Homo sapiens: one gene and its partners. The protein of the gene in region 1 purifies or fractionates together with the protein of each later gene. This does not show direct contact. Each region holds a gene or a part of one and is shown in the gene's direction. Other genes may lie near its edges.

What was found.
Region 2: the proteins of DGCR8 (region 1) and SURF6 purify together in Homo sapiens (co-immunoprecipitation; 3 studies listed by BioGRID and IntAct, with this or other methods). This does not show direct contact.
Region 3: the proteins of DGCR8 (region 1) and RBM28 purify together in Homo sapiens (affinity purification with mass spectrometry; 2 studies listed by BioGRID and IntAct, with this or other methods). This does not show direct contact.
Region 4: the proteins of DGCR8 (region 1) and GNL2 purify together in Homo sapiens (affinity purification with mass spectrometry; 2 studies listed by BioGRID and IntAct, with this or other methods). This does not show direct contact.

What each region holds. Positions count from the first base shown.
Region 1 is NC_000022.11:20,090,230-20,097,260, forward strand, and holds part of DGCR8 (microprocessor complex subunit DGCR8), read left to right. Parts: coding exon 1-29; intron 30-1,205; coding exon 1,206-1,403; intron 1,404-1,639; coding exon 1,640-1,741; intron 1,742-2,579; coding exon 2,580-2,678; intron 2,679-4,483; coding exon 4,484-4,566; intron 4,567-7,031.
Region 2 is NC_000009.12:133,328,256-133,333,199, reverse strand, and holds the end of SURF6 (surfeit locus protein 6), read left to right. Parts: intron 1-439; coding exon 440-652; intron 653-851; coding exon 852-1,331; 3' UTR 1,332-4,424; downstream 4,425-4,944. UniProt on the Homo sapiens protein: Binds to both DNA and RNA in vitro, with a stronger binding capacity for RNA. May represent a nucleolar constitutive protein involved in ribosomal biosynthesis or assembly.
Region 3 is NC_000007.14:128,319,904-128,326,934, reverse strand, and holds part of RBM28 (RNA-binding protein 28), read left to right. Parts: intron 1-1,043; coding exon 1,044-1,117; intron 1,118-2,240; coding exon 2,241-2,376; intron 2,377-3,343; coding exon 3,344-3,408; intron 3,409-5,510; coding exon 5,511-5,669; intron 5,670-7,031. UniProt on the Homo sapiens protein: Nucleolar component of the spliceosomal ribonucleoprotein complexes.
Region 4 is NC_000001.11:37,592,935-37,600,321, reverse strand, and holds the start of GNL2 (nucleolar GTP-binding protein 2), read left to right. Parts: upstream 1-4,384; 5' UTR 4,385-4,499; coding exon 4,500-4,563; intron 4,564-6,475; coding exon 6,476-6,560; intron 6,561-7,387. UniProt on the Homo sapiens protein: GTPase that associates with pre-60S ribosomal subunits in the nucleolus and is required for their nuclear export and maturation.

The sequences.
Region 1 (7,031 bases):
AGTCGAGGTGTGCAAAGATGAATCCGTTGGTGAGTTTTTGAAGGACTCTTCCCTTCTTGCCTCCTGGGACCCATGAGCTTTGTTTTTCTAATGAAGGCCATAATTGTTCATAGTTCCTAGTTGTACTTGTGAGCAAGGGGCTGTGCACCTCCACTGTTGGTGTGGCTGAAAGGCTTGTCTTCCTGTCCTTGCAAGAACCTGCCTGGGTGCAGCACCCTAGGCTCCTGTCTGTGGGCTCTGTGGTGTCTGCATGGCTGAGGCTGCTGGGGAGATGGCTGCTGGCACTGGCAGTGGGCCGTTTTCTCTCTGGTTGTTTGTATGATCTTTCCCTAAGTCTTGCTTTTTCAGTAGGATGTGCTCATGTGGCATTGTTTTGATTTGTCTTGATGAGCTCAGTGAGCCTCTTTAATCCATGACTCAGTGTTGGGAAACTGTCACCATTCTGTGGATAGTTCCCTCTTCAATCCTGCAATTGCTTGCTGGATGTGTACTGGTGTTTCCCATTCTCTCTTCCATGTCTTTTAGCCTAGTCCCGCCATTTAAGTCTTAGTTCTCTCTTCAGGTGTGGCAGGTCTCTGTGAACCCACCTGCTGGATTACTTTCAAAGAGCACTTTCCATTTTCTAGGTTTCTATTTGTCTGTACATCACTACCCAGCCTGTCTCATAACTCCGTGGAGTGTGGGGTGCCCTAGAAGAGCCTGTGATGGGGGCTGTTGCTGAGGATGGGGAAGTGGCCCGGGAGGAAATGTGACAAATGCGAGGCCCTGTGCAGGGAGCTGCCTGGGTGTGTTGCTGACTACAGAGGTGGCCAGGATGGCCAGAAGGAAAAGAGTGAGGTGGTCAGAGAGGTGGCGGGCGCATGGAGCCCGGGTGCTGCTGGCATTCGGGCACCTGTTTTGATACAGGGAGGAAGTCCCGAAGGCCATCTGACTTTTTTAAGCTGTCTTTTTTCCTTTTCATTTTTGTATTCTTCCTGCCCCAAATAAAGTAAAAGAACATCTCAGAAATTCATCCAGAAGGGACCTGCCAGAATAATCTGAGCTGGTGTAGGGAGGCCTTCATTCTTTGCTTCCCTCCCCTTTGAAAGGGACGGGGAAAGGAAATAGTGTCATGTGGCCTGGGCCTGCCCCATGCACTGGGCTGTGAGAACCTGACTCCTATGTTGGAAGTTAAGTAATTTGTTTCTCTGGTAAATCTGGGACAGATCTCGAGGAATTTCGAAGCTACCTGGAGAAGCGTTTTGACTTTGAGCAAGTTACTGTGAAAAAATTCAGGACTTGGGCTGAGCGGCGGCAATTCAATCGGGAAATGAAGCGGAAGCAGGCGGAGTCCGAGAGGCCCATCTTGCCAGCCAATCAGAAGCTCATTACTTTATCAGTGCAAGATGCACCCACAAAGAAAGGTATAAGCCTCTGCATTTTAACATCAGCAGACTGGTTATGCTGTTATTTCTAATGTGATGTGTTGAGGGCATGTTTTATGAGTTGCATTTCGTTCAAAGTTTATGTTTATCCCATGAATGCAGGGGTCTGCCACATTCACGGTCGTGAGCCCCTAGTTACTGACATGGTAACAGGAAGCTGTGTGCTAGCTTGTGGCACTGCTTCACACTTGCTGAGATGGTTCTTTTTGTCACAGAGTTTGTTATTAACCCCAACGGGAAATCCGAGGTCTGCATCCTGCACGAGTACATGCAGCGTGTCCTCAAGGTCCGCCCTGTCTATAATTTCTTTGAATGTGGTAAGTCTAACCTTCCCCATTTCAGTCCTAAAGAATCACAAGGTGTAACTTTGGTCAGGGCTGGGGAGGCAGGCGCTGACCGCTAGCCCTACTCTACTGGAACGGGAGGAAAGGGAAGGGTAGAGAGCAGCGTGCTGCAGATGGGTGGCTTGTTTCCTGGAGCCGCGCCCCATCTGAGTGGGTGGCTCTGCTTTTCCCTTCCAGTCTGTCCCCTCTCCCCACCTTCCTCTTGTCCTGCCCCATCTGCCTTGCTGGTTTCTGATCCTGCGTTGTCATGGACAGCCTTATTGCGAGCAAGGCCTCCCCACTGTGCACTGGGTCCTTTCCCTGGTCTCCTGGTGCCCCTGGGTGTCTGAAGGGTTCTTGGGCATGCATTTCCCACCAGCTCTGTCTTCCTTGGGTGCCCTCATCACACCTTTGTGAAGACCAGTCTGTCTTCCCCTTGGAAGCTGGAGCCTGGGGGTCACTCATCCTTTGAGGTGGTGTTTCTTTGGCAAGCCACATCTTGTGCTTTCCCATTCCGGCAGTCCTGTGTCCGTCTTTCGTAGACCTTGGTCCCTGTCGTAGGAGGCTCTGCCCCCAGCCTCCTGCTGCCCCTCTGGCTCACCATCTCCCACGTGCCTCATTTCCCTCCACTTTCCCAGCTGTGCCCTTTGCTGCTGCTTGTCTGCTGCCCGTCTCCAGTCCCAGGGAGCCCCAGGTCTCTGCAGTCAAGCACAGGCCCACTCTCTGCAGGGACAGCCCCTGACTGCGCCTTGTCTGTCGGTGTGGGCAGACTGTGCACACGCTTTTGATGTCTTGACTCGTATGTTTTAAAACAAGTAATTTTAATTTTAAGAGAACCCAAGTGAGCCTTTTGGTGCCTCGGTGACCATTGATGGTGTGACTTACGGATCTGGAACTGCAAGCAGCAAAAAACTTGCGAAGAATAAAGCTGGTAACGTGCTTGCTTGGGTGTCAAAGATACGTGCTGCCTGCTGTGTCTGCCTCGCTGCTTGGTTAGGGAGGGGCTGAGCAGTGGTGACAAGTGGGGGATGTGGGTGGGGCATGTTTATTTTATTTATGTAATCATCTACTTTGATTTTTAAAATTACATGCTCATTGGAAAAGACTCAAATAGAGCAAAATGTGAGACTTAAAAGTAGAAGGCCTCGGCCGGGCGTGGTGTCTCATGCCTGTAATCCCAGCACTTTGGGAGGCTGAAGTGGGCAGATCACGAGGTCAGGAGATCGAGACCATCCTGGCTAACACGGTGAAACCCTCTCTCTACTAAAAATACAAAAAATTAGCCGGGTGTGGTGGCGGGCACCTGTAGTCTCAGCTACTCGGGAGGCTGAGGCAGGAGAATGGCGTGAACAAGCGAGGCAGAGCTTGCAGTGAGCTGAGATCGTGCCACTGCACTCCAGCCTGGGCGACAGTGCAAGACTCTGTCTAAAAAAAAAAAAGTAGAAGGCCTCTCTACTGAGTGACAGCTGGGCCAGTATGTCCCTCCCTAGTCCTGGCCCTGCACATATTCAGGGGTGTGCCTAGAGCCAACTGGGCTGTGCTGGGCACATGCTGTAGTGCTTGTTTGTTTTTAAACTGAGCAGCATGTGGGCATGCCAGGAGGGAGGAGAAGCGGGCCAGCATGCTGTTGGCATCCTCCCCCAGTGGTGCTGGCTCTTACCGGCACTATTTCCTGAGTCCTCCCACTCCATGTTTGGGCCTAGCCACACAGAACACCTGGCACAGCGCAGCTCTGGGAAGGCTGTGTGTCCTGGCGAAGACCCACTGCCCTTTTGGACCATGCCCTTGCCGTTTGCATTCATGCCCTGCATTCGTGGTAGTTGACATTCTTTCACAAAAAGCCATTTGCCTCAGCGTCCAGGGTTAGTTGGCTTCTTGTAGGGTGGTGTTGGGTGTACCCCAGGCCCTCGCACCCACAGGTTGATTCTCGAGGTATCTGTCATTGCCGTGTGTTTTCCAGAAGGCCTGCTGCCCATCTTAGATTCTGCCTAAGAGACTTTTGCAGCTCAACAAAGGGGGTGTGGTGGAGGTTTTGACAGATAACTTGCAGTGGGGCCTTTTGTGGGGGTGGAGATGCCTTGGGCGTGGCTGTGTGCTCTTCCCTCTGCGGGATCACCCGCTTTCCTCCCTATGTGCTGGAACCCACTTCCCTTGCCCAGACTCTTGGCTGCCCTATAGACAGCTTGGCTCCATGTCTTGCCAGCACTGATAGCTCTGTGGGGTCTATGGAGCCATCAGCCCTTGGCTATGGCAACTCCGACCCCAGTGGGCATATCCGTGCCCTGCCCTCTAGCAGCTCCCTCTAGCGTCTCTCAGACCTGGCTGCATCTCTCCACCCACGCCAGCCACTGCTGCTGCCACCTGGTCTAGGTACCTGCAGTAGCCTGCTCTCAGGCCTCCCTGCATGGTCCAGGGCCCGCAAAGCTGTTTTCTCACGTGCCACCGAAGTGGTTCCCTAACATACAGCTCCGAGCTCCTCCCTGCCTGCTCCCAGGACCCCAGGGTGAGAGCGCACACACCCAGTGTGGCCCGTGAGGCTTTCTGGTAGCCTGCCACACGTCTGGGCTTTTCCTTCTGTCCTCTCCTGACCCTGTCACTGAAGTGCTGTCTCTCCTCAGGGCCCTCGCTCAGCCTCTGAGCTGTGGGGATGGGAGGCAGCAGTGCACAGTTCACTCTGCAGGGTGGTGAGAAGAGGGCAGTGCCCAAGCCTCACCCTCGGGCTCTTTTTTTTCATAGCCCGAGCTACACTGGAAATCCTCATCCCTGACTTTGTTAAACAGACCTCTGAAGAGAAGCCCAAAGACAGTGAAGAACTCGAGGTGAGTGTTGTGGTCCTGCCCTGCTGGGAGCTGTGTGTGCAGTGCGGCTACCCTGCCCTGTTAGTGTGAGCTGGGGGTGTCCGTGGGCTGTGCTCATGCCTTCCATGCCCTGTAGGTTAGTCTCATCCAGCCTCCAGGTTCTTCTGTTTGTATTTCATAAAGAGGAAACTTGCCTGTCTTTGTATAGGCAGGGAAAAAATGTCCTTTTTGTTAGAGATTTTTGTCCTCTTTTGCAGCATTGAGTGTGCACCGTAAATGTCGGGTACACATAGGTTTGTGATGGGAATGAATCTTTGAGGCAGTCTACAAGATTTAGATTGTTCTTTTTTTTGAGACAAAGTCTTGCTCTGTCACCCAGGCAGTGACAGAGTTTGATCTTGACCCACTGCAACTTTCACCTCCCGGATTCAAGTGATTCTCCCACCTCAGCTTCCTGAGTAGCTGGGATTACAGGTGTGTGCCACCATTTCTGGCTAATTTTTGTATTTTTAGTAGAGATGGGGTTTCACCATGTTGGCCAGGCTGGTCTCGAACTCCTGACCTCGGGTGATCCACTCGCTTCCGCCTCCTAAAGTGCTGGGATTACAGGCATTAGCCACTGCGCCCGGCCCTAGATTGTTCTTTATATACTTGACCCTTGAGTAACGTGGAAGTTAGGGGCACCAGCCTCTCACGTGGTCGAAAATTCACGCATCACTTTCAGTCCTCCCAAACCTTAACTACTTACTGGTAACCTACTCTTGACCAGAAGCCGTACCAGTAACAAACAATTGATTAATACATATTTTGTTATGTACATATTACTACATCTGTCCCCAACCTAGTTTTGGCACCAGAGATCAGTTTCAGGGAAGACAATTTTTCCACAGACGGTGTTGGGGGGCGGGGATGGTTTCAGGATGACTCAAGCACATCACATTTATTGTGCACTTTTTATTTCTATTATCACTACACTGTAATATGTAATGTAATCACTATACAACTCACCATAATATAAAACCAGTGGGAGCCCTGAGCTTGTTTTCTTGCAACTAGATGGTTCCCTCTGATGACGATGGGAGACAGTGACAGATCATCAGGCATTAGATTTGCATAAGGAGTACACAACCTAGATCCCTTGAATGCACTGTTCACAATAGGGTTCACACTCCTATGAGAATCTAATGCTACTGCTGATCTGACAGGAGACAGAGCTCAGGTGTAAAATGAGTGATGGGGAGCAGCTGTAAATACAGATTAAGCTTCACTTGCTCACTTACTCCCCCTGCCCCCACCACTCATGTCCTGCTATGCAGCCCGGTTCCTAACAGGCCATGGATTGGTACCAGTCCATGGCCTGGGGGTTGGGGACCCCTGATATATACTGTATTCTTACATTAAAGTAAGTTACAAAAAGAATGTTATTAAGAAAATCATAAGGAAGAGAAAATTTATTTACTGTTCTTGAAATGGAAACATCATCATGAAGGTCTTCATCCTCCACATCTTCATGTCGAATAGCTGAGGAGGAGGGGGAAGAAGAAGAGTTGGCCTTGGTATCTCAGGGGTGGCAGAGGCAGAAGAAAATTTTTGTATAAGTGGGCCCATGGAGTTCAAATCCATGTTGTTCAAGGGTCAGCCATGTGAAGAACCATTTAAAACTAGCTGTAAACCTTTTTGGGTAAATGGTTATTTGTAGCAAGGGCTTGTGGAATTTTGAAGGGTGCATTCTTATTTATATAATAGCTTTATTGAGATAGTTTACATACTATAAATTTGGCCTTTTAAACTATATAAGTGGATTTTTATATATTCAGAGTTGTATAACCATCATAACTACCTAATTTTAGAGTATCTCAACACCCCCAAAAGAAACTCCATACCCATTAGCATTCCCTCTTAGTTCTCTCCAACCACCAAAAGCCACTAATCTGCTTTCTGTCTCTATATATCTGCCAACTCTGGACATTTCATATTAGCGGAATCATACAATATGTGGTCTTTTGTGACTGGCTTCCTTCACTTAGTGTGCTATGTCAGCTGTAGGTTTTTATCAGAATAAGGAAATTTCCTTTTGTTCCTGGTTTGCTGAGAGTTTTTGTAGGAATGATGTTAGATTTTGTCAAATGTTTTTCTGCTTCTATTCAGATGATCATGTTTTTTTTTGTCTTTTATTTTAGTAATATAGTGTATTATATTGGTTTTTGAATGGTGAGCCAACCTTGCATTCCTGGGATATATCCCACTTGGTCATGACATATAATGATTTTTTTAATATGTTGCTGGATTCATTTTGCTGGTATTTTGTTAAGGATTTTTGCATTTGTAGTTATAAGCAATATTGATCTGTAGTTTTCTTGTGATATCTTTGTCCAGTGTAACAGCAGGTACAGGTATCAGGATAATACTGGCCTCATAAAATGGTTGGAACATGTTCCATTTTCTTCTGTTGTGTGGAATAGTTTGTGAAGGATTGGTGTTCATTT
Region 2 (4,944 bases), on another chromosome or scaffold:
TTTGGGCTGGTGTAGGGCTCTTGTTGGCCCGGGGATGGGAAAGGCCATTGGGGAGGGCTTCGTTGGGTACCTCGTGAACAGAATGGGCAGCGGTCAGGACAGGTGTTCAGACGCCAACTCCAAGTTCTAGGCAGTGGTCTTGACCCTCCTCATCTATAAAACGATGTATGACATTTGAAACCATGTGCGTAATGTATCCTGGCACGGGGTAAGCACCCGGGAATTGGAAGCTGTGATTCTTATTTGGGGGTCCCTTCTCTCTTTTGGGGTCATTTGCTTTTTGGGGAACATCATGGTGGAACATTGAACTCCGCGGGCCCCTTGTTTGCGTGAGGATTTTCTCACCTGCCTTCCAGCCCTGATTCTTCTCGACTATGGGCCAGGCTGGGGGACCCTGGGATCGAGAGAACTTTAATGAGTGGGTGCCTCTTTCCCCCAGGGCAGTGCCAAGGAGCTGTCCCCTGCCGCCTTGGAGAAAAGGCGGCGGAGAAAGCAGGAACGGGACCGGAAGAAGAGGAAGCGAAAGGAGCTGCGGGCGAAAGAGAAGGCCAGGAAGGCTGAGGAGGCCACGGAGGCCCAGGAGGTGGTGGAGGCAACCCCAGAGGGGGCCTGCACGGAGCCGCGGGAGCCGCCCGGGCTGATCTTCAATAAGGTGAGCGGGAGCTGGGTCCTTGGGCGGGCTGGGTCGGCTTCAGGCCTCAGCGTTGCCCCTTGTTAGCTTCATGATCTCTCTCCGAACCCCATCATGTCTGTAAGGTGGTGACGGGGACCTCGCAGGTCCCTTAGGGTACTGGCCAAGGCTGGGGCCTAGTGCAGGGCTGGCATGAGCTGATGTCATACCTTCCTCCCAGGTGGAGGTGAGCGAAGACGAGCCGGCCAGCAAGGCGCAGCGCAGAAAAGAGAAGAGGCAGAGGGTGAAGGGGAACCTCACGCCGCTGACCGGGAGGAACTACCGGCAGCTGCTGGAGCGCCTGCAGGCACGGCAGAGCCGGCTGGACGAGCTGCGCGGCCAGGATGAGGGGAAGGCGCAGGAGCTGGAGGCGAAGATGAAGTGGACCAACCTCCTCTACAAGGCGGAGGGCGTGAAGATCCGTGACGACGAACGCCTGCTGCAGGAGGCCCTGAAGCGCAAGGAGAAGCGCAGGGCGCAGCGGCAGCGCCGGTGGGAGAAGCGCACGGCCGGCGTGGTGGAGAAGATGCAGCAGCGCCAGGACCGGCGGCGGCAGAACCTGCGCAGGAAGAAGGCGGCCCGCGCCGAGCGCCGCCTGCTCAGAGCCCGCAAGAAGGGCCGCATCCTGCCGCAGGACCTGGAGCGCGCAGGCCTGGTCTGAGTCTTTCCCACCTGGGGCCGCCGTCTTCCGTCCTAGGAGACTCCAGGACACCCTCTGAGTCCTTGACGCTGGCTCTGTCCCAGGATCTCCACAGACCTCGGCCTCTCCATGTGAGGGGGACACAGTGGTGCTCTGCTGAGTTGTGAGGGCCCAGATCACAGATCCCATGTGAGAAAGAGAGAGTTTCAGCGTCATCCTTGAACGCAGGATCCGGGACCTTCAGACCCAGGGAAAGGGTGAGGGAGACTGGGGCCTGGTCTGCTTTCCCGGGCCTGAAAGCTTCCCCGAGGTTTGCAGGGTCAGGGAGGAGGAACGGTGGGGGTGGGCAGTCACTGCCTGTTCCCCACTGCCTGTGTTCGCAGGAGCCACGGGACAGAAGACGGTGGCCTCTGCTGCCGGGCCACGTTAGTCCGCAGCTCACCCGAACAGAGGACAACCCTGAGGTGTGGCATATGGGCACCTGGCACTGGGAGTCGGGGGAGCACGTCCAGGCGTGGTGCATCCTGGGGCAGAACGCCATGGCTCCTCCCCGCTCTCTTGGCTTCTGCCTGTTGGGGTCTCATTCCTTTCTGTTCCCCAGTGCCCCGGGGCGGCATTTTACTGCTCAGAATTTGGAGGGAGGGAGCAGTACCTTCCCGGAGTCCACGCATGTGAGTTGGGTCAAGTGCATTGGACCTAGGGAAAGAGAAAGAAAGAATAAAAGCTGGAGAGAGAGTGAAGTGAATGCAAGATACAAAGTGGGATGGAAGAATTAAATCCAGAGTTCCAGGCAATCAAAATGAGTGCAGGTTGAAAGAAAACAGGTGAATTTTAGTGGCATATGGATGATAAAGCTGTAAATAAAATTCTTTTGATGAAACTCTCCGGTTATGAGACAAAGACTGTAACTGAACAGGAGCTGGTGTGACTGTTACCAGACAGAGGCAACTGATGAAAAAGCCCTGTGAAAGATAGGATGTGAGGTGAGCATGAGCTTGAGCTGAGAGACAGACACAACAGTATCTGAAAAGAATACATACTCTTTCCATGCATATATGGAACATGGATGGAAACTGACCACCTACTTTGTCCAGAAAAGAAGTCTTAAGATATTTCAAGGAATCAGTGTCGTTATCTGACCGTATCCCAATGTCATTAAAAAAAATTTGAGCTATTTTTTTTTGTTTTTTAGATAGAGTCTTGCTCTGTCACTCAGGCTGGAGTGCAGTGGCATTTCATATTTGGAATTTTTAAAACACACTTATAAATTACCTATGAGTTAAAGAATTCCGAATGGCTATTAGAAATATTTGGGACTAAAGGATAATGAAAATGCTACGTATTAAAATTTGTGGAACAGGGCCTGGCATGGTGGCTCATGCTGTCAATCCCAGCTCTTTGGGAGGCGGGTGGATCACTTGAGATCAGGAGTTCAAGGCTAGCCTGGACAACATGATAAAACCCCATCTCTATTAAAAATAAAAAATTAGCTGGGTGTGGTGGTGCAAACCTGTAGTCCCAGCTGCTTGGGAGGCTGAGGCGGGAGAATCACTTGAACCCAGGAGGTAGAGGCTGCAGTGAGCCAAGATCGAGCCGCTGCACTCCAGCCTGGGTGACAGAGCAAGACTGTCTCAAAAAGAAAAAATTTAAGATTTGTGGAACAGAGCTAAAGCAGCACAAAAAAACATAGCCCCTAAATGTATGTGCATCTACAGATAAATAGTGCCATTTATACACACATACGCTGTATGTCTGTATTTTTAAAGCTAAAGAAAAATAAGCATGCAGCTTAAGTTGGAACAACTCAAAGTAAATGGAAGAAAAATCTCCAAAACTGACTAAAAGTAATAGAAAGCCTGAGTTGTAATCACTGATGAAATTGAGTCAGTAGTTAAGAATGTTCCCCTAGACGGTTTTACAGGGAAGTTCCACGATATAGAGAACAGGTAATTCCAGACGTAGACAAATTCTAACAGAATCAATTGAGAGAACACTTCATTCGTGAACTTAGCTTTGATACCAAAACTAGGTAAGAGAAAGGGAAGTTACCAAATACCTGTGGGCGGCAAGCCACCCAGGCGCCGAGGCAAGAGACAGAGGACACGAGCTGTTCCAGTATAATAAAATATAAAACAAGAATAGTTACAGCAGATATAGATCTTAGATATGATTACATATGAATATCATTAATCATTAGTTTGTAGCAATTACCTTTTATTCCAATATTATAATAATCCTCGCTCTATAATCATAGCCTAGGAAAAACCAGGCCATACAGAGATAGGAGCTGAGGGGACATAGGTGTGACCAGAAGACAAGAGTGCGAGCCTTCTGTTATGCCCGGACAGGGCCACCAGAGGGCTCCTTGGTCTAGCGGTGACGCCAGCGTCTGGGAAGACGCCCGTTGCCAGGTGGACCATGGTCTAGCAGTAGCAAAAAGTATCAAGGAACAACACCCGCTACTTAGCAGACCGGGAAAGGGAGTGTCCCTTTCCCTGGAGGAGTTTAGAGAAGACTCTGCTCTTCCACCTCTTGTGGAGGGCCTGACATCCGGCAGGCCTGCCCGCAGTTATCTGGAGGCCTAACCGTCTCCCTGTGATGCTGTGCTTCAGTGGTCACGCTCCTAGTCCGCCTTCATGTTCCATCCTGTACACCTGGCTCTGCCTTCTAGATAGCAGTAGTAAATTAGTGAAAGTACTAAAAGTCTCTGATATGCAGAAGTAATGGCATAAGCTGTCTTTCTCTCTGTCTCCTCTCTCTCTCTGCCTCGGCTGCCAGGCAGGGAAGGGCACCCTGTCCAGTGGACACGTGATCCACGTGACCTTACCTATCATTGGAGATGACTCACACTCTTTACCCTGCCCCTTTTGCTTTGTATCCAATAAATAACAATGCAGCCAGACATTCGGGGCCACTACCGGTCTCCGAGCATTGGTAGTAGTGGTCTCCCGGGCCCAGCTGCCTTTTCTTTTATCTCTTTGTCTTGTGTGTGTATTTCTACACTCTCTCATTGCTGCACACAGGGAGGGAGAGACCCACGGACCCTGTGGGGCTGGTCCCTACAAATACCAATGTCAAGATTTTAGACAATAATAAACCAAGTTTAGCAAAGTGCCACACTGGATTTAATTCAGAATTGCAAAGCAGTTTCAATGCCAGAGAATCAAGAGTGTAATTCATATCAATAGATTAAAGGAGCAAAACCCACGTGACCATCTCAATGGTTGCAGAACAGGAACACAGTAAATGACGCGACAGCCATTTATAACGAGTTTTTAGCAAACTAGGAATTAAGGTATTTCCTTACTCTGATAAGGGGATTTGGAGCCAGGCATGGACCCATCTTGAAACTACATTCTGGGTCAGGCAAATGTAGATGTATTGGAGGGAAAGACATCCCCATGGGTTCCCAAGAGGTGAAGTCATCATAGTGAACTAAGGGGCCAGTGAGGGTCTGGAAAAGGCCACTGCCATCACCTGGCTACAGAGACTGAAGAGGCGGGGGGGGGTCTCGTCCTGAGCAGAGACAGGACAACTGGGTGGGCCAGTGAGGGCTGCAGGTGGGGGAAGCTGAGAACCCAGCAATATTTTACTGCCACTGGATGTCTGCACAAGGAACCTATGCCAGCCAGGG
Region 3 (7,031 bases), on another chromosome or scaffold:
CTCTTGGGCTTAAGCGATCTTCCTGCCTTGGTCTCCTAAAGAGCTGGGATTACAAGTGTAAGCCACCACACCCAGCCTTCACATGGATATTTCTTATTAAGAGAGATCATGAGACTAAAGTTCTAAGAAGAATTAGAACAGATGAAGGAAGTAATAATAAAATTTCATTAAGAGCAGTGGTATCTTTGTCTTGATTATTTGGTACCTAACATAGTGCCTGTGTCATAGTGCAATATGCGTCACTTAATGATGGGGATACATTCTGCAAAGTTCATTATTTGGTGATTTTGTCATTGTGTGAATGTCATAGTGTACTTATACAAACCTAGGTGGTATGGCCTACTACACACATAGGTCATATGTGCTCCTAGGCTACAAACCTGTACAGCACAGCATGTTGTTATACTGAATGTTGTAGGCAGTTGTAACATAATGGTAAGTATATGTGTATCTAAGTATTTCTAAACATAGAAAAGGTATAGTAAAATGCAGTATAAAAGATAAAAAATGGTACAACTGTATAGGGCAGATCCATTGTAATCTTCTGGGACCACTGTTGTATATGCAGTCTGTCACTGACCAAAACGTCCTTATGCAAGTACATGGCTGTACTTTTTTTTTTTTTTTTTTTTGAGACGGAGTCTTGCTCTGTTGCCCAGGCTGGAGTGCAGTGGCACTATCTTGGCTCGCTGCAACTCCGCCTCCCAGGTTTACGCCATTCTCCTGCCTCAGCCTCCCAAGTAACTGGGACTACAGGTGCCCGCCACCACGCCTGGCTAATTTTTTGTATTTTTAGTAGCGACGGGGTTTCACTGTGTTGGCCAGGATGGTCTTGATCTCTTGACCTCATGATCTGCCCGCATCGGCCTCCCAAAGTGCCGGGATTACAGGTGTGAGCCACTGCACCCGGCTACATGGCTGTACTTAATAAATGGATGCCACCTATCCCTTCCACTCTGTGTCAGGCTGTTGCCATTTGCAATGTTGTCTTTGGTTTATCTGTGGGAGTTTGGGATCTCACTGAATTGTGTCTCCTTGTGCAGGTTGTGCATTTGCCCAGTTCATGACTCAAGAAGCAGCTCAGAAATGCCTTCTAGCTGCTTCTCCAGAGAATGAGGTAAGGAAGATATTTCCTTTACCTTATAACACAGGAGGCAGTTTGGCTCTTAGGGGCAACATCTGGTATTTATACAAAGCTTTATTATTATTTTTCTTGTCAGTAATAATAAAACTAACACTTATTTAGCACTTTGTGTTAGGCACTGAACTTTACATGCATTATCTTAATCATTACATCAGCCCTTTGAGGTAGGCAGAATTATGATCTCTACTTCATAGGTGAGGAAAAGGGGATAATAACGTATCTGATATTTGTTGCTTGCTGTCTGTGTCAGCCTCTATCCTAGACTGATAACATGAAAGACTAGGATGAGGTATTAAGGTCGTCTGTGAAGTAGAGTAGATGTTTGAGAGAGAATGTGTGTGGGTGATGGAGAATTACTCCATTTGTTCTATAGTCGAGTATAATGTTATCTAATATTGCTGTTATTTCTTAAGTCCTCTTGAGTAAGTACTCTACTATTTCACTAGCTTACTTTACAATACTAGACATTTGCCTGGTTACAGATAATTTTCCTCAGTTTGGGTCTACTTTGGGACTAATCAACTCCCAGAAAATAAATTCTTTACTGCTGACTGCCTGAAATACACATGTGGCCTTTTGCACAGCTATACTAAATATTGTGAGGCCCAGTGATCCATTTGTAGCTAGCTGAGCTGAAACGTCGTAGGGCTTGGCTTCCATAGCGTAATTGATGTTTGCTGTATCCCTTTCTGTGGTGTTCTTGTCAGGTGCTTAGTTTCTAGTTTCTACTCATTATGTGTTGTTTTGTTTTGTTATTTTTTTATTTTATTTTATTTTTTTTGAGGTGGAGTCTCGCTCTGTCTCCCAGGCTGGAGTGTAGTTGCGCGATGTCCGCTCACTGCAAGCTCCGTCTCCCAGGTTCATGCCATTCTCCTGCCTCAGCCTCCTGAGTAGGATTACAGGCGCACACCACCATGCCCGGCTAATTTTTGTATTTTTAGTAGAGACGAGGTTTCACCATGTTGGCCAGGCTGGCCTTGAACTCCTGACCTCAGGTGATCCACCTGCCTCAGCCTCCCAAAGTGCTCGGTTTACAGGTGTGAGCCACTGTGCCCGGCCATTATGTGTTTTAAGAAAGGGTTGTGATCTGTTACAGGCTGGTGGGCTTAAACTGGATGGCCGGCAGCTCAAGGTTGACTTGGCGGTGACCCGTGATGAGGCTGCAAAGCTTCAGACGACGAAGGTGAAGAAGCCGACTGGCACCCGGAATCTCTATCTGGCCCGAGAAGGCTGTGAGTAGGGAGATGTAACCCACACTTCTAAGTACCTGGCCCTGTGCCATAATCATTGATCAAGCAATAGTATGCCTGGAAGCATGTTTCAAATTAAAAACCCAAATGTTCTCTTTAACAGTGTTATATGATCATTCCACTTTAATAAATGTGGCTCTCTATTAGTAAACCTTCACTCGTTTTTGTGGATTAACTGTCCCATTATCTTTTCTGCCTGGTTGCCTTTAGTCTTTTTCAATAGAGGATTGGCAAGGCAAAGGGGGAGGAAGAACTCAAAATACCTTTGCTTCTTGTCATCATTTCTAATAAGAGGTTTTCATTATGACTAAAATTACTCTTTTGGATTATTCATGGATTTAAAATGTGCACCCAATACTTTCCTTTAGTGTCAGAAAGACAAAAAAATTAGCTTTAAATTTTTAAAAAAATTCTTCTAGGTCACACAGCATTTATCAGCTCACCTCCTCCATAGCTTCACAGCCTGTACTAGTAATGTCCTTTAGCCTTCGACACCAGCCTTCTATGGCAACATAACTGTTTTCGGCTGGCTTATCTCACTGTTTAGTAATGGACCTCAAGTATATAAGGAACAGCAAAGTTAAGTTCCAAGGGCAGATTATAGGTGGAACATTGTGCATTCTAAATGCCCAAAATGTACTTATGTTCCATACTTCTTCTAGGCCTTTCTTTCTGACTTTGGGCATGTACGTGAAGATTCTTTGAGGGGAGAGAAGGAGAAGAGGAATAAAATCACAAAATGTTTAGAGTTTTAGTCCTTGAGAGCAGCTCTGAGCCCAGAACTTAGCCCTGTAGCCTATTTCTGGACCTAACCAAATGCCACCGTGTCCTGGCCAAGATAGTCCTCTGGGCCCTGTACAAAGAGTTTGCATCATTCAAATCACATTCCTCTTGTTGCTCAGTGAAAATTCCCTTGTTGATGTCTTGGCCTTTTTCCCTCTTTCTGCAGTGATTCGTGCTGGGACGAAGGCTGCAGAGGGTGTGAGTGCTGCTGATATGGCCAAAAGAGAACGGGTGAGTAGATTAGGCATTGACCTTCACGTTCTGCGTGGCCTATAAATCAATCAAAAATAGTTATCGAATGCTAGATGTGCTCATCAAAGAGCCCAGTATGGTCACAGACCATACTTATTGCCCTGTTAGGGAGAAAAGCACATAGGTGAAATAGCAAGTAACCCAACATCATACATAGTATTCTATCTGTTTTGTATGCTGGTATAAAAGAACTGTGTCTTATTATTTGTTTCCCTAGTGCTTGGCAGTAAATGTTTGCTGAACACATGCTGCTACATCATGCAGTAGACAGTCAGAGGCTATTGCTACATGTAATTAGGTGTCAGTATAAACACAGAATAATGTAAAAGAGGAAGATCAGAATGAGCTGGAGTTATTAGAGAAGGGAGAAGATATGGCTCTTGAAAGGGGTAGCTGTCAGTTGGGAGGAGTTATAATCTCCAGATTATAAAATCATTTTAGAAAAACTCCATTTTATGGATGTTTCCGATGTTAACCGATAACTCATATTCCTTTGCTGCTTGGTAATGTTCCCAGTAATTTTTACTTTTTCCCATATAACTTACTTTCAAAAAGCCAAGCCAGCCTAGAAGGGTAAAGATGCATAACTGTGAACAGAATTAGCTATGGAACCTTAACATGCAGATGAGGAACAGGGGTGAGAGTGTAATGACAGCAGGAGGCAGTGCGTCTTTTTTTCAGTGGGCACAGATTCTGCACTAGTGTTTTCAACTTTTGTGGTAGTGAACACCTAGAAATCATAGGCTCTGGAGACCCATCCTTAACTGGAGAAATTACAGAAAATTTTAAAGCCTCAATTTTATAAGGGCACTATATACCCTTGTCTGATCACAGTGCAATAATGACATATTTAATTTAAAACTAATTTTGTTAGCAAAAAGCTCATTCAATGATAGGTATGCATTATAAATTCACAGCAGGCACAGCTTTTCCTGACAGAAAAATAGTCTGTTGAACTTAAACATGATAGCCTTTTCAGATGTTCCTTTAATAGTCGTTTTCCAAGGGATTTGTTTATTTTGTGATCTGTTGGTACTTTTACCAAACAAGAAGCAGCAGGACTGAGAAGACTTGACAAAAGAAAAACTTTTAATTGAAAACTTTTTTCTACCAACTTGGTTTAAAAAAAACTAATTGGGAGAAGAATGTCATCTTTCATTTCATTTTAGACACAGATCACGCAGGAACTGGGGTTTTGTGGCAGCATAGTTGAGGGTATTGCTCTAAGAGCAAAATATGGTTCTGTGGTCATTGATACTCCTTTGCCTCAGGGTGGCAGAGTTGAGACAACACAGCATTCTGTCAAGTATTCTTTGAATAACTTCCATTTCCTTTTGGAAGGATTAGATAATCAGTTGAGCTGGTGGGTAGATGAGGACTGGGCATAGATATTAATCACAGTATTATTTGTTGTTTGTTCTGAGCTACATTTTGAGCTAGGGAATTTTTTTTTTTTTTTGACCGAATTTCACTCTTGCTGCCCAGGCTGGAGTGCAATGGCACGATCCTGGCTCACCACAACCTCCGGCTCCCAGGTTCAAGCGATTCTCCTGCTTCAGCCTCCCGAGTAGCTGGGATTACAGGCATGCACTACTATGCCTGGCTAATTTTTGTATTTTTAGTAGAGACAGGGTTTCACCATGTTGGCCAGGCTGATCTTGAACTCCTGACCTCGGGTGATCTGCCTGCCCTGGCCTCCCAAAGTGCTCGGATTACAGGCATGAGCCACCCTGCCCAGCCTTATATTATCTCATTTTGGCCTCACCTCAGTGCTCAGAGACCTTGATCTACTGTTTCGTTTTATAGATGAAAAATTGTGGCTTTAAAATTTTATGTAATTTCTCCAGTTAGGGATGGGTCTCCAGAGCCTATGATTTTACTATTACCCACCCACCATCTTGTTCCCTTGGACTTTTCTTTCCCTATACTAGGCATTGTAAAGCTGCGGTGTGGGCAGTTTCCATCCGTTTTCTATATGTGTGGTTATGGGATGAGGATCATAATTCTTTCCTTTTGGAGAATTATGAGCCTACCTCTTAAAAAGAGTGGGTTGTACTGTTAACCATTGGTTGTTCTTTCAGTTTGAGCTGCTGAAGCATCAGAAACTCAAGGACCAGAATATCTTTGTCTCCCGAACCAGGCTCTGCCTGCACAATCTCCCAAAGGCTGTAGATGACAAACAGCTCAGAAAGCTGCTGCTGAGTGCTACTAGTGGAGAGAAAGGGGTGCGCATCAAGGAGGTGAGACGTGGCCCTGACCATTTTGGAGCTTTCATTCTGATCTTGGGTCAGATCAAGCATTTCCCTCAGGCTGTGGTGCCAGATTTTGTTTGTTTGTTTTGAGACGAAGTCTCACTCTGTTGCCCAGGCTGTAGTGCAGCGGTGCAATCTTGACTCACTGCAACCTCCTCCTCCTGGGCTCAAGCAGTTCTCCTGCCTCAGCCCCCTGAATAGCTGGGACTATAGGCGTGCGCCACCACGCCTGGCTAATTTTTGTATTTTTAGTAGAGAAGGGATTGCACCATGTTAGCCAGGCTGGTCTCGAACTCCTGACCTCAAGTGATCTGCCCACCTCGGCCTCCCAAAGTGCTAGGATTACAGGCGTGAGCCACTGTGCCGGGCCATCAACAGACTTTCTTCTGGACATGTTGTCAGCATGCATAGCTGAGTTTAGCAGTTTCTTGGTTTTGTTCTTTTTCTTCTAAGAATTGTCTTTTACATCTGACTGAATTACAGCAGAATGCAAGGAAATCTCTGTCTGCATGAATTAATTTAGCAAGCATTTATTAAATGCCTGTTGTGTGCTTAGCATTATACTTTGTGCTATCATGTGAATTTTCTTGCAGAGAAAATAATCTGCTTTGCTTTTTGGAAGAGTATTTTACTCCTAGTTAGATTCTTACCCTGTGTTCAGAGTCCCCTATGCCTTGTGGTCAACACAGGAAGCCATGTAGATGTTCAGCAGTTGAATTAGAAAAACACTGGGTTCACACCAACTTGGTTAGACTCTGTGTGAGTACAGAACTTTTCTGCCTCCACATTCCCCTTTGCGTATTTCTCTTTTCTTTTTTTTCTTTTCTTCCTTTCTTTTTTTTTTTTTAGATGTGGTCTTGCTCTGTCTTTGGCTGGAGTGCAGTGGCACCATCTCGGGTCACTGCAAACCGCCACCCCCCCCCCCCCCAAGCTCAAGCAATCCTCCCACCTCAGCCTCCCAAGTAGTTGGGCCTATAGTTACACACCACCATGCCTGGCTAATTTCTTTCTTTCTTTCTTTTTTTTTTTTTTTTTTTTGAGACGGAGTCTCACTCTGTCGTTAAGCTGGAGTGCAGTGGCATGATCTCGGCTCAACGCAACCTCCGCCTCCCGGGTTCAAGCGATTCTCTTGCCTCAGCTTCCCGAGTAGCTGGGACTACAGGCATGCACCACCACGCCCAGCTGATTTTTGTATTTTTAGTGGAGACGGGGTTTCACCATGTTGCCAAGATGGTCTCGATCTCTTGACCTCAAGTGATCCGCCTGCCTCGGCCTCCCAAAGTGCTGGGATTACAGGCGTGAGCCACCTCGCCCAGCCCATGCTTGACTAATTTCTTGTTTTTGGTAGAG
Region 4 (7,387 bases), on another chromosome or scaffold:
TGGGCAGCGGCCATTCCAGGGGCCCAACTCTTGGCCTCAGCAGGCACGGGTCAATGCTTCATGGGCTTGCCAGAGGAGAGACACAAGAGGCCCCAAAAGAGCAGCTTCTGCTAGCAGTTCAACTGGGAAGTACAACTCAACAAGCCGGCACTAATTAAGAGCTAATGGCCTTACAAATGAGCATTGCCAAAGGATAACGACCCTCCGGCTGCAGCATAAATATCAAGGCATTTGGGGCAGAGCCAAGATATATATTTTCAGAGTGCATTAGACACTGCAGCAGCCTTCCTCACCCTGGCTCTGCTAAGAAGAACAAGATGATTTAAGATAGGTAGGAAAGAAGCTTGATCTTCCAGGGCTGCCTTCTGGTCAGCAGGTCAGAAAGCCTCCGAGTGACTCTTGGAAAAGACTTCACTTTTGTATATACAAGAATCACTTGAGGAGCTTGCTAAAATGTAGATTCTCTTGGCCCCACCCCCAAGATGGTCTGATTTTGGAAGCTCTGGGATAAAACCCAGAAATCTGCATTTTTGTTTTATTTTATTTTATTTTTGAGACAGGATCTCACTCTGTCACCCAGGCTGGAGTGCAGTGGCACGATCTCACTGCAGGCTCCACTTCCCAGGCTCAAGAGATTCTCCAGCTTCAGCCTCCCAAGTACCTGGGACTACAGGTTTGAGCCACCACGCCTGGCTAATTTTTGTATGTTTTGTAGAAACAAAGTTTTACCATGTCACCCAGGCTGATCTCGAACTCCTGCGCTCAAGCGATCCACCTGCCTCTGCTTCCCAAAGTGCTGGGATTCCAGGCATGAGCCACCATGCCCAGCATTTTAAAACAGATCCCCCAAGTGATTCTGATGCTTGTGGTTCTCAGACCACACTTTAAAAAATGTTGCTTTAGAAGCTGCTGCTATTTGCCCATTAGACCCCAGTGATAAACTTTTTACAGAATGAAGATAAAAGTGAGGTCAGGGCCCGGCACACTGGCTCATGCCTATAATCCCAGCACTTTGGGAGACTGAGGCAAGTGGATCACCTGAGGTCATGAGTTCAAGACCAGCCTGGCCAACATGGCGAAACCCCATCTCTACTGAAAATACAACAATTAGCTGGGTGTCCTGGTGGGTGCCTGCAATCCCAGCTACTCGGGAGGCTGAGGCAGGAGAATTGCTTGAACTGATGAGGCAGAGGTTGCAGTGAGCTGAGATCGTGCCATTGCACTCCAGCCTGGGTGACAGAGCAAGACTCTATCTGAAAAAAAAAAAAAAAAAAAAAAAAGTAAGGTCAGGATTGTCTGCTTCCTGTGAAGACACCAGTCCAGAACATGGCATTTCCAGCCAGTCTCCATCCATTAAGGTCTTCTCATTCACACAAACCTGTGGTTACCAGGAGCAACATTTGAGGGGATGAGTAGCTCACCTTGGATTTTGAGAAAAATAGAAAGCATCCCTGGCCGGTGCAGTGGCTCATGCCTGTAATCCCAGCACTTTGGGAGACCGAGGCGGGAAGATCTCGAGGTCAGGAAATTGAGACCAGCCTGGCCAACATGGCGAAACCCCGTCTCTACTAAAAACACAAAAATTAGCTGGGCATGGTGGTGCGTGCCTGTAATCCCAGCTACTTGGGAGGCTGAGGCATGAGAATAGCTTGAATCTAGGAGGCAGAGTTTGCAGTGAGCTGAGATCATGCCACTGCACTCCAGCCTGGTGAAAGGGCAAGACTCCATCTCAAAAAAAAAAAAAAAAAAAAGAAGAAAAATAGAAAGCATCCCATCTGCATGATGTGTACCATGTCTGCGATGCTTTCATATACTGTAACTCATATGATCTTATTGCAGTCTTTCAGAGTAGTTAAGCTATTGCATCTGTTTTAAAGCTGAGGAACTGTAGACCTGGAGGTGTATCTTGCCTCTGCTAGTTGGCATGACATCAGAAAAGAGAGTGAAAAATAGTCACTGCATTACAATGCGGCAAGCAGGGCAGGCAAATCAAACCAGTAACTTAAGCTTGACTTACCTTGATCAGGCTTTTTATCTGCTGGTAGAATTGAAGTTGGTTGTCGAGATCGGCAAATATTGTTGTAAAAGGATTGATGGGTCAGATTATAAAAATAGATGGAAAGTTTGTAAGATAAATGCAAGCAGAGTATGAGAACAGGAGAGAAACAACCCACCATATCATCTGGGAAAATGAAACTCCTTGGCAAGACTTCACAACAGCCTGATTCAAAATTTCATAATGAAATTATGTCTCTGATCAAAGCCTGAATGAGCTCATAGGCTGATTTTTGCCATCCGTGTTTATTCTGGTTTGCACCAACTTGAGGCATCAGAAACACATTAACTGAATCTTCTCTCTGGGAGGAGGCTATGGTATCCTTGTTTTGGGGATCAGAGGGACAGTGTGGGGTGGAAGGGGGCATCTTCACTGATCATGAAGTTTTTTCCAAATAGCTCTCAGAGCTTCCCTAACACAGGTCACAGTCAGGGCCTTCCCAGCAGAGCTGCATTTAATCTCATGATACTTGCCCTTGGGGCAATAAAAGCGAAGCTTGAGGGACAGAAGGTATTTCCAGCTCTAGCCTATGACATGGCCTGCTTTTGCTCTAAAGAGAATGTTTTGGGGTTTGTTTCAAACTCAGAGAAATAAAGACTCAATCATCCCCTGCTCAATTAGAATACCTCACTTTATAACAAATTGTTTGTTTTTATGAAATGAGCTACACTGCATGAATCCACCCTTCCTCTTGCCTAACCATCTCTTCTTTGGCCTATCCAGAGGGTACAAAGATGGCCATTTTCTGACAATTTGAGGTACCAAAAAAGAGAGAGGGACCAGGCGAGGTGGCTCACACTTGTAATCCCAGCACTTTGGGAGGCTGAGGCAGGTGGATCACCTGAGGTCAGGAGTTTGAGACCAGCCTGGCCAATGTGGTGAAAGCCCGTCTCTACTAAAAATACAAAAATTAGCTGGGCATGATACCATGCGCCTGTAATCTCAGCTACTTGGGAGGCTGAGGCAGGAGAATTGCTTGAACCCGGGAGGTGGAGGTTGCAGTGAACCGAGACCGGGCCACTGCACTCCAGCCTGGGCAACAAGAGCGAGACTCCGTCTCAAAAAACAAAAACAAAAACAAACAAACAAAAAATAAATTGTAAAAAGAGAGAGGGCTTCTTGGTTCAAACACTGGCATCTAGACACTTTATTCTGGCTAGTAGAAACAGAAATCACTGGGTCTTAATGCCTTCCTTCATCCTCAAGGCAAGAGACATTCCCATCTACTCATTCTTTCACTTAATGAATATTTTTTGAGTCCTTTGTTTCAGATGCTATTCAAGTCTTAAAGACACAGCAGTGAACAAATTAACAAGGTCCCTGCTTTTAAGAATCTTACATTCTAGTTTGGGGGAAGCAGCCAATAAACTTGTAAAAAAAATTCAACTAGTGATAAATGCCATGAAATAAATAAAACAGAATACTGTAACAGAATAACTGTGAAAGGGTGAAAGGTGGCTGATTTAGACAAATTAGACAGGAATGAGTTCTCACAGCAGGAAGGGTCACCAGATAAAATACAGAACGTACAGTTACATTTGAATTTCAGGCAAACGATGAATACTTTTTTAGTCTAAGTATTTTCCAGGCACTGTTGGAGGTGTACTAAAGAAAAGTATTCATTTTTTTTCTCTGAAATTCTAATTTAATTTGGTGTCCTGTATTTCTATTTGCTAATTCTTGCAGGCCTACCAATAGGTGATATTTGAGCTTAGGATTGAATGACAGCTATGCAAAGATTCTGGGAAAGAGTGATTCAGGCAGAGAGAATATCCAGTGTAAATGTCAGAATAACCAGAGGGAGGGACGTACACATGAGATTAGATAAATAGGCAGGCAGGGGCCAGATCACAGAATCCTGTAGGGATGGCAAAAAGTTTGAATCAATCTCTGTCTCTGTCTGTTTCTCCCTTCTCCCTTCCCCTACCTCTCATTCTAAGAGTGATGATAAGCCACTGGAGTTGTAAGGAAGAGAATGACACCTCCTAACGGATATTTGGCTGCTGTGTGGTCGGCAACTTTTGGAAGGACTTAGAAGACAAATTCAGAAGACAAACTTAAGCTTGTGCCACTGGCCTGGGAAGAAGCTTCTTTATTCGGAGGTGGACCCAACTGGGAGCTCTGGCCGCGCGTTCAGGTTAACTAGGCGGTTGCTATGAACGGGCAGCTTGGCGGTTGCTAGGGCTGGAGCGGGCTGGGGCTCCACGCAGGGCGACGCCTAGGCGGCTGGAGCGGGGGCGGAGCCAGGAGGGTGACGGCGCGCGCCGCGCGTTCACAGGAAGTCGCTCTGAGGCCGAGAGGGACGCGAGCGGAAGTGACGTACGTCGTGCACACGTGGTCCGGCGTGGTTCAGGCGGGTGTCTTCGGCCGGGCTTGGGAACATAAAAGTTTGTTTCACCACGTAAGCCGGACCTCGCACTCCGGTCCCGGTCTCGTCGCCAAGATGGTGAAGCCCAAGTACAAAGGACGGAGCACCATCAACCCGTCCAAGGCCAGCACAAACCCAGGTACAGGCGGCAGGGCTGATCGAGGGTGGAGCTTGGAGGAAGTATAGGGAAGGGCTCCGAGGAGCACTGGAGGGGAAGGAGGGTTACTCGAGTGGCATTGCTTAGAATGACTACGAGCGGGGTGGCTGTTGGGGATGAAAAGGGAAAAAGGAAAGCAATATTTGTGGTGGTTTCTTCTCAGGGGGGAACTGAGGAGGGCTCAGTGCACGCCTGGCAGGCCAAAGTGTAGTCAACTGGTCTGAAGTCAAGGAAAGTGAACACTCAGGCTGACAGCCTTGGGTCCTCTCCAGTTGAGAGATGCAGAGAAAGTCAGATTAAAAATGGTGTAGGTTGACCCTTCGGGCCTTTTACACGTGATCATACTTGCCTGCCACCTTAGCTTTGACCTTTAAAATGAGAAAGGGCTTATAGTTTTGGCCCTTGGAATTATTCTATCTGGTAAAGTGCTTAGAGAACCCTACAAAGAAGTCAGTATGATCATTGCAGTAAGGCTGTTTAGGAGATGTGTGTAAGTTTTGGCGAGGTTCCACCTGTACGATTAACAAGACATCCTATGGGAGAGTTCCTTCCATTCAGGTTTAATTAATAAAACTTTGTTTTAAAATATGGTTTAGAATTTTTGACAATTTTAATGCAAGTTGAATGTTTATTCCGGATTGATAATAAATTATTCACTTTGCACAAACTGGAATCTCAGAATGTTAGACCCCAAAAGGCCCTTAGAGATTATGATTTTACAGGTGAAGAGACTGAATCAAAATACAGGAAGTGGCCTGTCATAATTGCAACAGTTAGTGAGTAGTAGTAGAGCCGCCAGTTTCTACTGTTAGAGACTGTTAGGAGAGCCAATGGGCTGTGGTTTCAGCCTGTCTTCTACTGTATCACTTCAGGACCAGACAGGTGATTTAAGGGGCTCCTGGCCAGGTGTGGTGGCTCACGCCTGTAATCCCAGCACTTTGGGAGGCCGAGGCGGTCGGATCACCCGAGGTCAGGAGTTCAAGACCAGCCTGACCAACATGATGAAACCCCCTCTCTACAAAAATACAAAGATTAGCCGGGCATGATGGCGGATGCCCGTAATCCCAGCTACTCGGGAGGCTGAGGTGGAAGAATTGCATGAACCGGGGAGGTGGAGGTTGTAGTGAGCTGAGATCGCGACACTGCACTCCAGCCTGGGTGACAGAGCACGACTCTGTCTCAAAAAAAAGATAATAATAATGAATAAATGAATAAATAGGTAAATAAAGGGCTCCCAAAATGAGAAGCTAGGCTAGTATTACCCTATTCGTTTGTCCTTCTCTTTCTCTTTGAGATGTAAGGCAAGAATTGCTGTGTTGATTAAACAAAAATCAAACATTAAGAAAGTAAGAACACATATATCAAAATTATAGTCTCCATGGTGCCTTGCATGGAGCAGGCACTCAATATTTGTTAAACTGAGACACAGAGGTAGGTATCTTCGTGGTTAAGACCATAGATGGTGATCAAATGCTCATGTACAAATTCTGGCTCTGCCATTTAGTAACGGTTTGACCTTGGGCAAGGTGTCTGACCACTGTGCCTCAGTTTCTCACTCCGCAGCATGGGGATAATATATCTATAGGATTATTGTATAGATTAAATCAGATGATGCCTATAATTTGGATAACACAGTGCCATCATAAGTGCTCAAAAATATTAGCTATTCTTCTCAAATACAATCCTATCGAAGATCAAAGATTGGGTCAGCTTTGTCATACCATGTAGCTTCAAGTACTAATTATTGGAGCAACATATGGAGAAAGTAGAGATTTTTGTGGTTGGTGGCTTCTTACCTAATTTGGGTGAACTACTTGTTGCATTTTAAGCAATGACTTGTTGGTTATACTGGTTGGTTATCAAATAGTGCACTGTGTACTTCTGCCTTTTGTAGATCGAGTGCAGGGAGCAGGAGGCCAAAACATGAGGGACCGGGCCACCATCCGGCGCCTGAATATGTATAGGCAAAAGGAGCGCAGGTGAGCACTGGGTGCTGTCATCCTTTCTCTTTTCCTTCATGCCCTTGACTGCTAGCTGAGACTGATGAAGCCTTTGCTGTTCTCACCCCCACTTCCTCCAAATAGGAGTTATATATTCTCAAATATAATTGTACGTGAGTGTCGTTAGGATAAAGTGTTAACTTTTGGTTAAGGACATGGGTAGCTGGCGGTGAAATAGTGATGGTTTCACAATACTCAAAAGTAGAGGTCTTGTTTCTCACAGCCCTGACCTCCACAAATGGCGCATTAAATCTCAGAGTTAAATATGGCCAGATATAACAAAACCTACAGGACTGTAGTTAGGAAAGCCACCAGAAAATGTGTTTTTTAATGCCAAAATGTAGATCATGACATTGTGGCACTTGGACAGTCATCAAAACTCCGAGTTCTGCTGAGGTAGCCTCTACCACAGGGATTTGCTGAGTGTGGCATTCCGCTAACTGGTCTTAATTTGTTTGGTAATTAGATTCTCCATCTCCGTCTGTCCTAAAAGATGTGACTAAAATACAAATGTCAAAGAACTTAATATGTGTAGTCATCTACTTTGCAGTTTGTTTTAGAATTTGGAATTCCGGCGTAAATCACCCTCTACGTGAAAAATTCATTTAAACCAGCCTTTGAATAATTACCCAAAAAACTCAAGTATGTATGTGTTTTTTTTTTAAAGTAAACAGTAACCAGATTTTTTAGAACGTCACCATTAGTTGTTATTCATCTAGCAGAAATCATTACGTGCTCTGTTGCAAGAGGTTAAATGGCTTTTGGGCAATCTGTTTCAAATGTAGAAGTACTTTGTGTTTACTGGA